Linked DNA regions of Homo sapiens: region 1 is linked to region 2. The links come from fine-mapping of genetic effects on gene expression. A gene starts in region 2. The other region holds a variant in brackets. All regions are shown on one strand. Distances are from middle to middle.

Evidence for each region.
Region 1: its variant is fine-mapped to the expression of NRIP3 in monocytes after LPS (Quach 2016, PIP 0.95).

What each region holds. Positions count from the first base shown.
Region 1 is chr11:8,003,549-8,008,921 of GRCh38, forward strand. No RefSeq gene overlaps it. Among named protein-coding and RNA genes, the nearest start is that of CASC23, 10 kb to the right of the region's middle. The variant A/G (reference allele first, on the strand shown) is at 2,809.
Region 2 is chr11:9,001,119-9,006,491 of GRCh38, forward strand. It overlaps NRIP3 (nuclear receptor interacting protein 3), which reads right to left and starts at 2,883. Exons shown (of 7, transcript NM_020645.3): 1 at 2,644-2,883. The coding sequence starts at 2,817. NRIP3-DT (NRIP3 divergent transcript) reads left to right here and starts at 2,970. Exons shown (of 3, transcript NR_183663.1): 1 at 2,970-3,425. RefSeq lists an enhancer at 2,060-2,979.

The DNA.
Region 1 (5,373 bases), 1.0 Mb before region 2:
GTTCCCCGCCCCCAGCTGCCTGCCCACCCTACCACAGTAATTTCCCTTTTTGAGGCTGTCGACAATTTTACCCAAATCTCTTTCTACCCAGCCCTTCAAACAGCTTCCCAAGAACTCCCTAGCCGATCATTTTCCTGACTAGAACCCTCAAATTACTAATCCATTTTATTCCTAAAATTATATCACATCATTCTACTGACCAGAGCCACCTAAATTAACTGATCCTTTCAACCAGTCCCACATACCATGCCAACCACCCTGCCCTACTAAGCCATGGGCCCACCACCCCACCATTTCTCACTTACTCTCTATTCCCCTGAGAATCTGTTCAGCACCAGTTACCCAGTGGTAGTGAACTTGGTTTTGATGGTTGCTTTGACAGAGAACATTAGCTTCATAGGCATAAATTGTATGTTCCTGTACCTTCTCAGATGGGCTTCAATTTACACTGAGATCATGAGCATTTTTACCTTAGGGGAATCTTTATCCAGTGGACAACCTGACACCAAACCCATGGATGCACTGATCCTATGGAACCCCAACCTCAAGGGCACCTTGATCACTTGACTCAGAAGGGAACATGGCAACCCCGAGGGAACACATCATCCCCAGGAACACTGACTCTCTGTGCATACTGGCTGTGTAAGAACTCTGTCTCTGTGGGCCCCCTGACCCAGCAAGCAGATTAATCTCAGGTGGCAATGAGTCCCTAAAGCATCTCACTGGCCCGCTGACCCCAGGTACACTAACAGCATTTGCTCCATAGGCATCATTCATTCATTTAGCATTCACTGGGCTTCTATTATTTGCCAAATATTATGTTAGCATTGAATGAAGAAATATACACTTTATGATAACTGGGGGGTAGAGGAGAAGGGGAAACAGGCAGTTTTGGAGGCTGTGTCTATCTCCAGCTGGTGGGCGGAGGGAGGGATTGAGGCCCCTTTCCTCTTAGCGGCAGCTCAGGAGGGATCCCAGGATCTGTGCTTCCATCTGGATCAGGTGAAGCACACACAGTGAGACTGTCTTTTTGCTCTCTGCAGGGGTGGGCACAGGATCCCTCTGTTCCTGTTGCTAAATTGGTCTGCTGGAGGACTGCACTATATTCTGACCACCTCTGTAAGGGACAAGGGATATGTATGACCTTACAATGACTTTGGTGTGCTCTCTATTAGGGCCAGACAGGGAGGGCAAACCAGCTCACAAAAATCTCAGTCTCCTTTTTTGAACAATGATATTTTTATTGTTATGAGTAACATTTATCTTTAAGGATTGGAAAATATAGAAAAAAGAGAAAGAAAAAAATAGAAATAATTCAAATTTGCCCTCAACGATCATTATTGTTAACATGTTGTGCCAATCCCTTTTCTCTACAAACAACTTTTTTTAAAACAGTGTTTTGAATTTTCTATTTTGGCTTTTTTTAAACTAAACATTTTAGAATGATTATTATCCAGGTCATTAAATCTTCAAAAACCTTATTTTAAATAGTTTTATAGGTTCCTGTTATACGGGTAAACTATGATTTACTTAAGTGATTTTTTAGTGTTGGGCATATGGGTTCTTTCTGATTTTGTGCTAATAGATATCTTCCATGGTCGACAACTGTGTGCAGACATAAATGTCTGAGTTTCTGCTTCTTTAGGTCAATCTCTCTTCCCTGCTGTGTGTCATACTTTGTGTCCTGGGAAGCCCATGTCGTGCTGCTCAACTTCTGGGTTTGAAGGAGACCATCAGGAAAATGCACCTGTGGCTCTGCATGCCCCCTTTCCACAGGATTCAGACACTACGGACGGAGGGCATGGGAAACTGAGAAGGGACCAGAGACAATATTATTCCACTTTTTGCCCTCCAAGGCCCATACCATAAACCTCCCCAACTCCTCCATTGCCCAAGCCAGAGCCCTCATGAAAATGAACTCAATCAAATTAACTTTTGAAGAGTAAACGAGATTCTAGGGACGTGGGAACCTGATCGCACTTCCTTTTTCCCACCCACAATCTATGGCCACTCCTGAGCCTGTGGGCTGCTTGAAGGCAAGTGAGGCCTTGACCTCTGCTGGAATCCTAAGAGAGAGAATTATTTAGAGTCTCATGGGTCAGGAGAGTCCTGGGAGGCCAGTACAGAGGGTTTCTAGCAAGGACCAGAAAGCTATAAAGCTGGGAAGAATGTGGCCCACAGAGATCTTTGGACCCATGAAGGGAAGCAAGTGTGGGGGTCTTGCTGGATTCTTGCTCTGGCAAGAAGGATTGAACAGGTAAACTGAGTCTTCCCTGCCCTGACACAGGACAGTGTAATGAGACAAGGGCTTCAGCAGGGCACTGGTGTCTTACCTGGTTCTGCCCCATCCATCCCAGATAGACTATTTCCCCTCCCAGCACCCACAGAGCTGCCAACAACAGCCAGACTCAACCCCAACAAGCTTCACTCCACTCTCCTTAGAACATCGAGGAATCAGTTCTTACTGAAAGTTTACTTGGTGCAGCCTATAACTGTGACTTCAGGTTCTGAGCATATCTGATGAAGAAATTAGCATTTTCCCCACATACTAGATATAGTCAGCATTTCCAGGAGTGTTCAAAGAGAACCCAGGTTGTTTAAGATAGAAATCTAATTGCCAGCACTGACTTGCTTCTCGTTGCAGAGTCTAGGAATCCATGCATGCTCAGTAATGCAAGTACTTGCAAGCTGACAAAATTCCATTTGTTTGTCCCCCTTATTCCCCTTATCACCAGCGAAGTCTCCCAGAAGGCAAGCAGTTGCCTATGGCGATGATCTAAGCTGTGAATTAGATGTTTGTCCCACAAT[A/G]GTTTGTCTGATCCATCTTGTCTGTCAGTCCTGTGAAGGTATTTTCTGTCTCATTAGGGTCTTCCAGTACTTTGCTTAAGTTTTGTCCCATGATGATGGTCATCAATTTTATAATGGTCTCTGTCCCACAATGTTGGTCCCAACTATAACAGGCCACCAGTCTCAGGAGCATTGCTCTATGCCAGAGGCTTTCTGAGTCATGGCCACTAGAGGACACCCTTACACCACTTAAAGGCCAAAGGTTGCCAGTGGCATTCCCTTAGTTCCTGAGCTGTTTTCTGAGGGCCTGCCCAGAGAAAGCACCTTCTGCTTTGGAGAGGTCAGGATGGTGCCAAAAAAGTGACCAAAGCTTTTGGAGCTGCTTCCCTTGGCCACCTTTGAGCCACAGAGTGATGAAACCAAACCATCTTCCTCTATCCCCACCCCCAAAATCACTCCAAATAAACACATAGTATTTCTAAACTTGGTTTGATAACACAGTTTCAAGTAAATCTATGGCCCACTCCCCTTCCAATCAGATTATAATCTGCAAACCCCTCTATACAGAAATTCTGGAGCTGCTGTTGCCCAGGAGAAACCCTAGCTCAGGACCTGACAACCAAAATGAGGTTCCTGGAGCTTTCCTTCCAGGGAAAGGGTGATGCTTATAAGAGAACCTGGACTTTCCACATGGTACTAGAGTTCTGGACAGGAAAGTGAGGGACTCTTGCCAAATTCTGGAGGTTAGAGAAGTGAGAGGTACAAGATAGGATCCTGTCCAATGGTCCCAGTAAAATTGCTTTGTTGATTGGAAGTGCAAGGGATAGACAGAGGTAATGGTTAGCTGACAATGGGAGCCCCAGATTTAGATATAAAAATTCAGCTGGAGGGAGGACATAGTTTGGGTCCCCTTGCAACAGAACATGTGGCAAAGACTTGGGGAAAAATAGTTTACGTGTGAGGTGATCTGCATTTGATTCCTATGGTTACCATAATAAGTACAACAGTTCACCCTTATCCATGCGGGATACATTCCAAGACCCCCAGTGGATACCTGAAGCCATGGATGGTATCGAACTCTATATATACTGTGTTTTTTCATAAACATACATACCTATGATAAAGTTTAATTTATAAATTAGGCACAGTAAGACATTAACAACAATAACTAATATAAAACAGAACAATTATAACAATATACTGTAATAAAAGTTATGTGGATGTAGTGTCTCTCTTTCTCCCCCCCCCCCAGCCTCTCAAAATAACTGTACTGTACTGCATGTAACTGAAACTGCAGAAAGCAAAACCATGGATAAAACCATGAATAAGAGGGGGCTGTTGTATCATAAATTTGGTGGCTTAAGACAACAGAAATCTATTTTTTCAGTCTTGGAGGCTAGAAGTCTGAGATCAAGGAACGGTCTTTGATACTGCCCCCAAAGCCTTTATTTTTTTTTATTTTATCTATTTATTTTTTTGAGATGGAGTTTCACTCTTGTTGCCCAGGCTGGAGTGCAATGGCACAATCTCAGCTCACCACAACCTCTGCCTCCTGGGTTCAAGCGATTCTCCTGGCTCAGCCTCCTGAGTAGCTGGGATTACAGGCATGTGTCACCATGCCTGGCTAATTTCTTGTGTTTTTAGTAGGGATGGGGTTTCTCCATGTTGGTCAGGCTGGTCTCAAACTCCCAACCTCAGGTGATCCGCCCGCCTCAGCCTCCCAAAGTGCTGGGATTATAGGCATGAGCCACCGCGCCCAGCCAGGACTTCAACATATCTTTTAAGGGGGACAAAACTAACCCATAATATGATCTTAGAAGTAAAAGCAAATGGAGACTAGGATGGGAAGAACTTAATGCAACTGAAGGTATCAAGCTGGTTATTTCTGCAGCAACAGGGACTCAGTCCCACTGAGGAACCTCCAAGGAGCCATGTGACATACCCCTCAGAATTCTCCCACTGAGGGACTGGAAGGCTGGGGAATTTAGCCTGTTACCCCACTGGCTGAAGAATTCTCCTGGGAGGCTGGCTAACTTCCTCATATTTAGAGGCTACAACTACAGTAGGGCTGCATCCTTCCCTAGCTAATTAAGAGAGATTGAGGTGCGATGTGAGCCCTGCGTGTGGGGCTGTCCACCGCCACAGTGCTGAAATCAAGGAGGCACCCCCAGTGTTAGAGAGGGTACCCCCCTTACACTGCTCAGATCTGCTCCTCCCCCACAGCAAGTCCACACTATCACTGACTCTTTTAGAGTGTGGACTCTTTACGAGTATGCAAGCTCTTAAAAAAAGAAAAGGGACTTTCAGGAGTAGAATTAGTGGAATAAACTATAGTCGCCTGTGGCAGCTGGTCCTCAGCCACAATTAATATTCATCATCTCCCCGCTCCCCCTCCAACCCACCAATTCCAGATTTCTTTCATGCCTGGTCAACACTAAAGTTGGTCTGGGCTGCTCTTCCTGAGGGCCTGGGCCCTTGACTGTCTTGCCACTACCCTACTTTGTTGGCTGTGGTTGGCTATGCACCATTATCCCTCAGCATGAAGGCACCAAAAGACACTCCAGCGACCAAGTTTCAGATGAATCC
Region 2 (5,373 bases):
CTTAATCTAATACAGAATGAACAATACAAGATAAAAGGATAAAAGCAAAAGGGGCAGACAAAAATATAATTTCCACAGAAGACTTTGTATCAGCCAACTCCAGATACACAGGAATAGGCAAAGGCACTTTCCTGGGGCCAAGAGAACATGACCCCCTTTGATTTCCTATGGTTGCCTTCTGCCAGTCCTAAAAGAGCTGGCAGGCTGGTATCAAGCAGTGAACATTACAGAAACAGCATAGTAAGAGGTAGATAATTCAGAAATCCCAGCGGTATATTCAAATATAGGTTGCTGGTATGAGGAAAAACAACCTACAATCTTCACAAACCCAAAAGTCAATAACAACTAATTTCTCCTCTCTCTTCCTTATCTCCCTCTGATGCTATCCTCTCCCTTTTCTTGGACTCCTTCTATCGAGATTATACTATAAACTACTCCAAGTAAGAACTATTCAATTAATTTTAACATCCTCCAAATTTCCCTTGCAGTGAGAGAAAATTGAGTCAACACTGGTCTATCCCACATGTATTTATAAAGTAAAAGAATAATAATGTACTTCTAAGGTCACTTCTAAGATTGTACTAAGGCTGCAACAACAGTTCCAAGAGAGTTTAAGCATGCTGCCTCACCCCAGCGCTTGCGGCTCTCCTAGCCCTACCTCGGTCTGCCTTGGTTTCTGTAACCTGGCTGTTCTGTGCAATCACTTGTACATTATAGGTGTGAAAACAGTGAGAGAGGGAAATCAACTCCATGACGGTGGGGCACAGAAAGCGTGAACCATGATTCAGAGCCTTACAGTCAACTGTCATGTGTATGTGTCATACTCAAGGCAATATCCTGCTTCTTGAGGCTCCTTCCTCTTTGCAGCCTGCTGCCTGTGCTGTATGCTATCAGCCCTTTGTGACTCAACTGAGACAGACTAGAGTCAGAAAAGCGGATGGAATTCTTACACAGCATGAAGTAGTATAAGAAATCCTAGGCAGAAGGAAGTTCAGGTAGCTCTCAGGGCTAGGAAACTCCTCGACAACGAGGGACAACCAAATCCAGCATTTAAAAACTCTGTATTTTAATTCTTCTCTTAATATAATACTTCCTTCTTTATTGATTGCTGAGCATTCTAGGAACTAGGATAGGATTATTTGGCCTGAAGGAAAGAATACTTCTCGAACCTGATTTGTTAAATGAATCGAGATTGCTTTAAAGTGAAAGAAGGGAAAAGAGAGTTATCTCTTTTGCAGGAGCACATTTCAATCACTTATCACTCTGGGTTAGCATAAATCAGATAAACTATCCTGTGGGTTGTGCAAAAAGCAAAACAAAACAAAAAAACACAACTTGTAAAAAAAACAGAGCAAGATAACTGAAGTAGACAAACTCTGCACAGAAGTAACTAATGGCAGGGAGGAGAAAAATTTTTGTATATTATATTATACTGTGTATAATATAATGTACCTGTGTATCATTAGAGCTGTTAAATTAAAAAAAAAAAAAAAAAAAAAAGGAAATGGATGCAGAAGCTCTGCCCTCCTGGGGCCAGAAATGGCAATTTCAGTGAACTAGGGCCGACAACCACATCCAAAATTAAATATTTCAAAAGCTTAAAATAAAAAATACTAGAAAAATTATGCAGAGCACCTATTTCATTTGTTAAAAGACATTTAATTAGTGTTTCACATATTACCACCCAAATGAATAAAGCGATTGTGAAATTCAAGAAAACAATCAAACTACAAGAAAACTCCAGATAAAACTACAAAGTTAAACATAAACTTGGCCCAGGACCACTACAGTGGCTGAGGGATGACAAATACAGTTCTTTATATTGGTAACCCTTAGCCATCCATCCCATTCTATAGAAAGAGGACAGTACCATCTTTGACCCCAGGCCCCCTGTCCTGAGGTGCTTCTACTTAATGCCAGGAACAACTGTGCTAGAAAAAAAGACTGCACCCACCCCAGCTCCAGATGCACACATTAGCTGGTCGGTGAGATGCAGCAGCCTGGCTTCCTCCCTCTACCCACTCCTTGGGGGCGGGGCTGGAAGAGGAGAATGATGAAGAGATGTTGGGGGTTCAGGAAACCTTCACATTTGGCCCCTTTTCTCTCTCCCCACTCAGGATGGAAGGTCAAAGTTAGGACCAAAACTAGAGAAGTGGGTTTTGCATAGGGGGACAATGGATTCAACAGAAGTCCTCTGGATCTGGCAACTGTCAAAAAACCCTCTTTCCACTTCTTTCCCCCTCACGGAAAGCCATTAGGAATCACCTCTGTCTGGGTCATAGGAACAGCCACACAGCATAGGAGGCACAAGCCCCGTGAACAAAATTCGGTATTAAGAATAAGGAAAAAGAAAGAAGACCCGAGGGCAAGAGGGCAGGGCAGGACCTCTTCTTTCTACTGGAGAAGAGACATCCAGGGAGGAGGCACAGCCGAGGGGAGCGCAAGCTAGAAAAGCTACGACGGAATCCCCACCGAAACCGCAGCAGGGGTACTGGAAGGGGAGGAATCCGCGACGCAGCGACCGCGAGCCAAGGGCAGCGGCGGGCCGGGCCGTGACTCAGTGAAAGCCGCAACGGCCGGGCCTCGGAAAACGGCGGGCGCGAAGCCGCCGGGGCCGGGGCGAGAACGGCGGCGGGGGCTCACCATGTCCTTGGACGAGCCCAGCTTCTTGAGGCCGTCCAGGGGCAGCAGGTCGGCGGAGTCCTTGTGGATGAACTGCACCGCCTGCTTCATCCGGCGCTGCTGTCGCAGTGACGCCGCCTCCCGCATGTCGGTCTCCTTGCGGCCGCCCTCAGTGAGGAGCCCTGAGTAAAACATCGCTGAGGCGCCGGCGGCCCGGTAGCCCACAGCCCCCCGGCAGCCTCAGCCTCGAGCTCCTCCAGCGCCGCAAGGGCCCCGAGCCGCGCCTTTTATAGCCGAGCGTGACGTCGCGGGGAGCAGCCAGTGCGCGCGCGGGGGGCGGGGCCGGCACAGAGTCCACGCCCCGCGCGGCTCCCTCGCGTCCCGCGTCCCGCGTCCCGCGTCCCCTGCTCACCCGGTGGCAAAGCCGGCGAGGAGGCGGCGGCGCTGGTGGGGACTGACCCGGCAGTCCGAGAATCCACCGCGGCCTTTTCACCCAACCGCCCCCTCCTGCGTGGGGGCCCCGCATCCCCTGGACTGGCGTGGGCTCTGGGGCCCGATGCCCTGGCAGCCCCGGCCATCTCTGCCGCTGGCCGCGGGTACCTGCTCACCTGTCCACGCCGTGGCCGACCCGGGGATCACCGACAGCCGGGCCATGCCTCGAGTCCCGCCGCCCGCGCCGCTGCTCGGCTTCTCAGAAACGCACCTCCACGCCGCCAGCCGGGGCTCCAGGGTCCACCGCCCGGGCCCGGAGGACTGGCGACTCCCTCCGAGGTTGGGAGCGCTCCGGATTTCTCCAACTTCAGGTCGGTCCCCACCCACCGGGCCACGTGACTGGGGAGGGGGCAGCCGGTGCAGGCGTGTGGAGGAGGCTTTCGGGACCTCCTCCCCCGGGCACCCTCTGCCTGCAGCCCGGCACCCGGCCCGCGTTTCCGAGCCGGGGGAGCAGGTGCAGTCGGAAGCCCGCGGGTGGGCGTGGGGCGGGGGAGTGGCGAGGGTCCCCCGCCTCCGCGGGAGCGCACGCGGCTGCGAGCCCTACACCTGCTCTCCGACCAAAGAAGCACCTGTTTTTCTCAATAAGTGCTAGGGCTTACCATCTAAAGGATCGTTCACCATCCCTCCAGCGTCCTTAGTAGGAGCGATTGGAACCCGTTTTTCTTCCTGAATAATCCATACTTTTAAGCCATTCTAATCGGGCCTTCAGGCATCCTGGATTCTGGTCTCGACATTGTGATTTGACACAAATCACGTTTTCACTCTGGAAACCACAACTACTCCCTCCACCCCATCACGCAGGAGCAGACCTGGATAAGAAATATGTGCACTCTGCAAAGAACCAATGATAAAAGTAACAATATCGACGCTTACTGAGCCTTTACTATGTGCCAGGTACTAGACTAGACACTTAAAATGCAGTATCTCATTGGATCCTGGCAACAGCTTGTAAGATAGTATTCTCATCACCCCCATTTTACAGGCAAATACCTGATACCTTCTGTCTGGCCTCCTGAATGCTCCTTGGTTCCATTCCAATACGTTGTTCACTGTGCTGCCAGAGTAATCTTCTCAAACGATAAGTGTGATCATCTCACTTCCCTGCTAAGAGCACCTCAAAAGGCTTCCTATTGCTCTTAGGAGAAACCCACATTCTTGCATGGTCTGCCTAGACCCTGCATATTCACTCTGTACTTCAGCCTCATGGGCCTTCTTCCAGTTCCTTCCAGTCACCTGTTGCCAAATGGCCTGCCTTTGACTGTCCTGTTCCCTCTGTGTGCAGTGCCCCCTCCTACCCTCTTCAGGAAACTCCTATGCTTCTTCCAGACCTCAGCTCCATTATCATTTCTTTAGGAAAGCCTTCTCTGACCTTCCAGAGAGAGTGAAGTCTCTCTAATTATATACTATCTATCTCTTGGGCATTTGACACTTTCTGTGGGGGTAGGGGTAGGGGGGTACTGGTTGTTGGATTAATATTTGTCTCCTCCACTGATTGGAACCTCCAGGAAGGTGACTGAACCCATTTTTTGCTTAGCATTGATGCCCTAATATGCAGAGGGTTCTCAAATACTAGTGAAAGGATGGCAAAAAGTTAAGGTCGTACCAAAGAAATCAAGTGGTAAAGCTGGCATTTACTCCCAGAACCTGTGCTGGACTACCTAGACCTGGAGAGACTGGGTTTGGCCTCATGAAGCTGCTTCTTTTACTCTGTTCTGCCTTCAACACTTGCCCCAGTTTCAAAGACTGTTTGTGGGAAAACAAATACAGAAGGCTGCTCACTTGGCTTCAAGGAAGCCCCAGGGCTGGATTCCTCCCTGTGTGCCCATCCCCTACTTTCCCCTACACACGGAGGACAGAGTCTCTAGGAGACAGGTGGGATTGCTGTTCACCTTCCAGTCCCCTGGCACACTTCCAGCAGTGAACAACAGTGGCTGCCCTGGCCCCTTCTGTCCCATCACCTGGATCCCTGCCTGATCACTCCTCCAGGTGCAGATCACCCAGGGAACAGTGAAAGTCAGCTTTGCCTTGTCCGTCTAGGAGAGGTGCCTCTGAGTTTGGCAAAGCATCAGGGCAGGTCCAACAGTGAGGGCCCCTAGGGCTTGGGCTGGGACAGTGACTTTCCTCAGGGAGGAAGCCAGGCAGGTAGACACTCTCGGGGGGAGTTGGAATCCCCACTCTCCAGGCTGCTCAGCTCAGACCTGCAGCCTTTTTTGCTGAGGATGTCCTGACAGAAGAAAGGGGCTCTTTTCAGAGCTAGAT